2 linked regions of the Homo sapiens genome follow. The protein of the gene in region 1 purifies or fractionates together with the protein of each later gene. This does not show direct contact. Each region holds a gene or a part of one and is shown in the gene's direction. Other genes may lie near its edges.

Region 1 (3,652 bases):
CCACTGTGCCCAGCCTCAGTTTATATTTTTAAGGACATTCCTACCTAAAACACCAGTATGATAAATTAAGACAATTATTCTGAATTTTTTCTGAGGATGGCTTGCCTTTTGTTACCTTGTAAGATCCCTTTCCCTTATATAGTGAACTTAAACGTTTAATCAGAAGTTAGGCTTTAAAGCTAGTCCTATGAGAATATTTCCAGTTGCATAAAATACGTCAAATGTGAAATCAGTTCACAAATAAATATAGCAAAGAGCTTTTTAAAACCAGACTAGAGGCCAGGCGCGGTGGCTTACACCTGTAATCCCAGCACTTTGGGAGGCTGAGGCGGGCAGATCACAAGGTCAAGAGATCAAGATCATCCTGGCCAACATGGTGAAACCCTGTCTCTACTAAAAATACAAAAATTAGCTGGGCGTGGTGGTGCACACCTGTAGTCCCAGCTACTTGGGAGGCTGAGGCAGGAGAATCACTTGAACCTGGGAGGCGGATGTTGCAGTGAGCTGAGATCACACCACTGCACTCCAGCCTGGCGACAAAGCGAGACTCCATCTCAAAAAAAACCAGACTAGAACTATTATGTTAATTCAGTTAGGAGTTATAGATTTAAGTATTAGTACAAATTCTTTAACTGATGTTTTTGAAGTATAAAAGTACCATTTTTGGATATTTAAGTTCCAAATCCTCTCATTCAGAATTTCCATTAAAAGGTTTAAAGTAAACGCTTGCTCTACTTATGATAACACTATCTAAAAACCGTAGAACAATACCAAAGTCTCTGCATAACGACCTTTTTATTTAAGATAATTCTGAAACACTTTATAGTACTGTGTGCCTGTGAAATGGTACCACTTAGTGCTAATGACATGTTAACTTGTTGGGGGGCATGGTAGACATTTCTTAACCTGTGAATTAGAATCTGGTGTGACTTCTCCTGGTCAAGTGGTAAAGGATACTACTGGTCTGATTAAGATAGACAATGTTAATCATACCACTCTATATGAAGAATTTTTACTTTTGCAATTTGTTGCCCAGATTTAGTTCTGCCTATTTAATAGTCATTGTTCTCTTTTGTTGTATTTGCATAAATTTGGAACATTTATAGCAAAGGTAGTAATAACTTTTTTTCTTGCATAGAATTATTGCTGAGACCTCCACTGGCTGTTTGTTTGCTGGATCATCGCTTGGTAAACGAGGTAAGATAAATGAAGGGGGTCCATAGTTCCCAATGCTACTGCAGAATTCTTTAATCCATCAGGATTGGAATGTTATAGAATGATGGATGAAAGTTTAAAAGGATGTAGTTAATTGATTCTCTTTTAGAGTCAATTACACTTTCAGACTTTCAGTCTTTCTCCCACCTTTATACTTTGGAAAATTTCAAACCTATGGAAAAGTTGAATGACTAGTTCAACTAGTCATCCATACAACCTTCTCTTAGATTCACTAGTTATGAACATTTAGTTTGTTGTGTATATTTCTGAGCCATTTCAATATAAGTTGCAGGTGCCATGTCTCACCCCTGAATACTGCAGCATATATGTCCAAAGAGCAATAACTACATAATTATAATACCATTTTTACACCTGAAGAATTTGTTTTATTCTGACACACCAGATAGCTTCATACATAATGAATTGTTTCCAAAATATTATTTAGAGCGATGTGGAATTTTTTTTTTTGGGGGGGGGCACATAGCATTTGTTTCTCAAGTCTCTTTAGTCCCTCTTTTAATACACAATCCTCCCATTACCTTTTTTGTTGTTGTTCATTTCATGATACTGACATTTTTAAGAGTCCAGGCCATTTTCTCACAGAGTTTCCCACAATTTAAATTTGTCTGATTGTCTCATGATATATTCAGATTAAACATTTTTATTAAGAATACTACATAGGTGATTTTGTGTACATTCCACTGTATCACGGCAGGGGGCACATGATGTTAGTTTCTCCTTTATTGGTGAGGTTGAGTGTGATCACTTGGTTAAGGAGGTGTGTCCTGCAGATCTGTCTGCCATGAAAGTTCCTTTTACCTTTGTAATTAACTAGTGATCCAAGAAAATATTTTGAGGCCATCTGGTTATCCTGCACCCATAACAGCTTTCATCCAGTGGTTTTAACATCTATTGATGATTCTTCTCTGCATCAGTTATTACATTGGTGATTTCAGAATTTTGAATGTTTTTGTGAAAGGGAAATTTGTTTAAGGTTTGGTATATTAGAGAGAGAAGATACATACATGCATGTGTTTGTTAATATTTAAAGTTACTTTTACCAATCAGGCAACTTTTAGGTGAACTTCTAGTTGTTTGCGTGGTCATTGATTGCTTTATTCCTACTTTGTAGCATCTTTAAAAATGCTTACCAAGCTGGGCACAGTGGTACACAACTGTAATCCTAGCACTTTGGGAGGCTGAGGTGGGAGGATTACTGAGACCAGAAGTTCAAGACTATCCTGGGCAATGTAGTGAGACTTTGTCTTTGCAAAATAAATAAACAAATAAAAATGTTTACCCTAGCTATGCTGTTAAGCCACACTATTACTACTGAATACAAAAAAAATTAGGAATTCTTCAGTTTGCTCAGTTGGTAAATCTAGAACTAGTTGGGCATCAAATCTGATCAAGAGAATAAATAAAATCACCATTTCCAGTTGAACTCACATAAATGAATTCTGTCTAAAACTGTGCTATTCAAAATGTGGTTGGCAGACAGGCAAACTTGTCAGCATCAACTGGGAGTTCGTTAGAAATACAGATTTTGGGACCTACCTCAGACGTATTGAATTAGAATCTGTGGGAGTGGGGCCCAGGAATCCATTTTAACAAACTTTCCAGGTACTTTTAATGTATACTGAAGTTTGAGAAATAGTGATCTAAAATATGTATTTGGCATATACTAATTACATATTAGGTGCAGTGAGGAATCAGTGTGGATATTGAGCCACTGCATGCACTATCTACAACAGTCTTTAGAAGCAAAGAGAATACAAATATAAAACGGAGACTAGGAGCAGACATATTACAAGTAATAAGTACTTAGCAGGCATTGGGAGAAGTGTGAGTTTGTTTGTATTACTGGTTACCAAATGTGCCAGGTACTGTGTACTAGGGATTCAAAAGTGACAGCTATGATTCCTGCCTCCTGGGTTATTCTGGCAGAGGAAACAGACCAGTTCTATGATAGTGGTATCCCCAGGGTACCATAGGAATACAGGGGAAGCAAAGGGAATCCTTCTGGGGACTGATTGACACCAAATCTGCCTTCTGCCATTTAATGGTCCTCCAGTGGGTTCTGTGGGTAAATAGAAGTTAGCTGGATAGAAAAGTGAGAGCTAAGGAGGAAGGACAAAGAAATTTGACATACAAAAGTATTCTGGGTGAGGTGGCATGCAGCTTTAGTCCAAGCTACTCGGGAGGCTGAAGCAGGATGATTGCTTGAGCCAGGAGTTTGACAACAGCCTGGCCAACATGGCAAGATTCCATCTCTTAAAATTTTTTTTTTTTTAAGTAGCCCCATATGGTGGCTCACACCTATAGTCCCAGCTGCTCAGGAGGCTGAAGCGGGAGGATTGCTTGATCCTAAGATGTTCAAGGCTGCAATGAGCTATGATTGCACCACTGCATTCCAGTCTGGGTGACACAGTGAGAC
Region 2 (3,652 bases), on another chromosome or scaffold:
ATTTTGCAAGATAAGAAAAGATGTAAAATAGTATGTAAACTAGTCTGGAAAGCCTAAGAGTACAGACATAGCAGTTATTTGCCAATGTCTGAAACTAACTAAAAATATGTTGGTTTTGAAAGACAGCCCAACCCCCTCATCTTTTGGTGTTGAATAGAGCAGGCAGTCAGAGAAGGACAGTGCTGCCTTGGTGGCACTCACCTTCAGCAGCAGATGCTCTTAGCACATCTGGTCTAAATGTTTGAGCTAAATGAGCTGTTCAGGGAGGCTCAAGTGGGAGAAATGTTAATACCATTTTTGTAATGATATTTTTATAGATCTTTGTATATTGAGGCTCCCAATTGTTTCAGACTGGCATTTACTGGTAAATTAATTTCAGATGTGCAAAATAAATTTTAGCTACGTTAAGATCATCTAAACATGCAGCATTTTGAGTTCTGAAAAGCTACAAGTGAGACATAATATTATTGTGAAATATTTAAAGACGTAGTTTTGTATGCTTTCAAAAAAGTGATATTAAATCACTTGTTAAAATAATTGCAGTCTAATTGCCTTAAAACTCCAGTGAGATGGTTTTACTTTCCCTGTGTAATTATAAGATAAAAGTATAATGGGTTGACGATAATTATTTGCACATCATTAAAATTGATTTGTGTTTAAATTCATTTTGTATACATTAATAATTTCCATTTCCTCACTGTACATTTTGCAATGCCATTCTTATTTTGATAGAGCCAACTTAACAAACACAGCTCTTTTTATAAACATTGTCTGCACAGTTAACAGAATAATGTTGGAAATGTAAATGCTTATTTCTAAAGATATTTTAACTTGGAAACTCTTTTCTTACAGTCAGAACAGAAGTGGAAACAACTTGCTGAACTTGCCATTAGTAAATGTCAGTTTGGCCTAGCCCAGGAGTGCCTGCATCATGCACAGGATTATGGGGGCCTGCTGCTTTTGGCCACTGCCTCTGGAAATGCTAATATGGTGAACAAGCTAGCAGAGGGTGCGGAGAGAGATGGCAAAAATAATGTGGCATTCATGAGCTACTTTTTACAGGGCAAGTGAGTATTAATTTAAAAGATTAATTAATTCTACACTGAGGATGGTTTTTGGAGAGGGAAGTGAAGAATGAACCCTGGAGAGAACTGATGAATGGCCAAATGGTGTTGAATAGACGGGGCAGTCAGAACAGGACAGTGCTGCCTTGGTGGCACTCACCTTCAGCAAGGGATGCCCTTAGCACATCTATCTAAATGTTTGAGCTAAATGAGCTGTTCAGGGAGGCTCAAGTGGGAGAAATGTTAAACACCTTCTTCAACAGCCCTGCCAGTTAATGGTGGAAGCATTTTATTTTATGATTGCAGGAGGCTATTGAGCTGCTCTAGTAGGTACCTGAAGGGCAGGTGATTTTACCCAAATTGGATAACTTTGATCCATTTATGGCAAGAACAAAAGGGGATAAGTATGCCACTTACTTGTAGATTTGAGCCCACTATAAAGCATAAAGATGTCTCATATTTTTAAGTCTAACCGAGTTAGCATAAACCAAATCATTTGGACATTAGTTGGCAGTATTATGAAATAAAACACAAAAGTATTCTTTCCTTTTTTTTTTTTTTTTTTTGAGATGGAATCTCACTCTGTTGCCCAGGCTGGAGTGCAGTGGCATGATCTCGGCTAATTGCAGCCTCTGTCTCCCTCGTTCAAGCCCTTCTCCTGCCTTAGCCTCCCAAGTAGCTGGGATTACAGGCATGCGCCACCACACCCGGCTTGTGTTTTTAATAGAGATGGGGTCTCACCATGTTGGCCAGGCTGGTCTCAAACTCCTGACCTCAAATGATCCGCCTGCCTCGTCCTCCCAAAGTGCTGGGATTATAGGTGTGAGCCACCACGCCCAGCCCGAAAGTATTCTTTAACCTTCTCCTACATACTGATTTTTTTTTTTTTTTACAATCCCATACTTCGCCATATAACTTTGAACGTGCACCCCATTGTATGTATGTGAATGTATTTATGAATTTATATACCTGTAAGAATAGACCCTATTCCTTATCCATAATTCAAAAATCCAAAAATATTCTGAAAACAGTTATAACTGTTTTGATGGCAAGACCTGAGCTGAACTGCTTTAGTATTTTTAGTTGCTTTTATACCAACTTGGTACATTTTTATTGCATTTAACATTCCTATGTAAGTTATTGCAGTATTAATGTTTGTGGCTTTTTCATGCTGAGGATGTAAGGTAATACATAGTATACATACTGTATCACCTTTCGAAAATCCAAAAAATCCTGAATTCTGAAACATATTGTCCACATCATAAAACTTGCACAGAAAAAAAATGAAATTAAAATAGAAGAAAAAATAAGACACCATGGTATTCTGCTGGGCACCACTGGCTTGTCTGGCCCTTCCCATGTTGGAGACACTGCCCTAGATATTTGTCTTGTGGAACTGAATTTCTGCTGGCATATATCCTTATGCCTTTAAAATTTGCTAATCTAACCTGCCTTAACTCCTCTTGAAAAGCCCCTTTAGGTTCTTAGGAATTATAATAATTAAGTTAAGTAGATTCAAAGTAGTCAGGAAAGCTGTCTTATCCCTCATACCCTTGCAGTGTGTTGATTAACAACCATTAAAAGACAAGTGACAGAAATGAGATATATGTGTGAAGATTGGGGAGATTTTTGGCTTTGTAACACTAAATTTACTTTGTGTTAAGTACCCATTATTATAGTGTTTATTCTTGGTAACAGTACCTCTCCTTTTTAATGTTTAGGGTTGATGCCTGCCTAGAGCTCTTAATTAGAACTGGACGGCTGCCAGAAGCTGCCTTCTTGGCCCGAACTTACTTACCCAGTCAGGTTTCAAGGTACAGACTTTTAATTTTAGGAAGAAATGTTTCCAATAAAAAGAGAGCACATTTACTTAGTCTCTCTTTGGTTCCATGATGTCTATAATAGGGTAGTGAAACTCTGGAGAGAGAATCTCTCAAAAGTCAATCAGAAAGCAGCAGAATCCCTTGCTGACCCAACAGAGTATGAAAACCTGTTCCCTGGATTAAAAGAAGCCTTTGTTGTTGAAGAATGGGTGAAGGAAACACATGCTGATCTGTGGCCAGCCAAACAATACCCACTTGTCACGGTGAGTGGCCAGGATGTCAAGCTTCATTTATTGTAACTACAGGGTGGAAGTACATTCAGGACTTCAGATTTTGAACTGCTGTCTTCTTTTAAAATTAAGAGCTGATATCTGGGATTTAGGCCAAGTTCATAGGTAAATTATGATTTCAGAATATCTCATTTCATCATTGCTTTATTCTCTGATAGCCAAATGAAGAGAGAAATGTCATGGAAGAGGGAAAAGACTTTCAGCCCTCAAGATCTACAGCTCAACAGGTCAGTAGAGCACTTCATGTGATAAATTTGGCTGAGATGGTTCACTTTTTTTTTTTTTCTTTTGAGACAGAGTTTCGCTCCATTGCCCTGGCTGGAGTGCAGTGGCGCGATCTAGGCTCACTGCAAGCTCTGTCTCCCGGGTTCACGCCATTCTCCTGCCTCAGCCTCCCGAGTAGCTGGGGTAATTACAGGCGCCCATCACCGGTCCGGCTAATTTTTTTGTATTTTTATTAGAGACAGGGTTTCAC

Evidence for each region.
Region 2: the proteins of RTCA (region 1) and COPB2 purify together in Homo sapiens (co-immunoprecipitation; one large-scale study listed by IntAct). This does not show direct contact.

The regions. Positions count from the first base shown.
Region 1 is NC_000001.11:100,276,120-100,279,771, forward strand, and holds part of RTCA (RNA 3'-terminal phosphate cyclase), read left to right. Parts: intron 1-1,138; coding exon 1,139-1,197; intron 1,198-3,652.
Region 2 is NC_000003.12:139,358,496-139,362,147, reverse strand, and holds part of COPB2 (coatomer subunit beta'), read left to right. Parts: intron 1-852; coding exon 853-1,067; intron 1,068-2,785; coding exon 2,786-2,878; intron 2,879-2,969; coding exon 2,970-3,150; intron 3,151-3,335; coding exon 3,336-3,404; intron 3,405-3,652. UniProt on the Homo sapiens protein: The coatomer is a cytosolic protein complex that binds to dilysine motifs and reversibly associates with Golgi non-clathrin-coated vesicles, which further mediate biosynthetic protein transport from the ER, via the Golgi up to the trans Golgi network.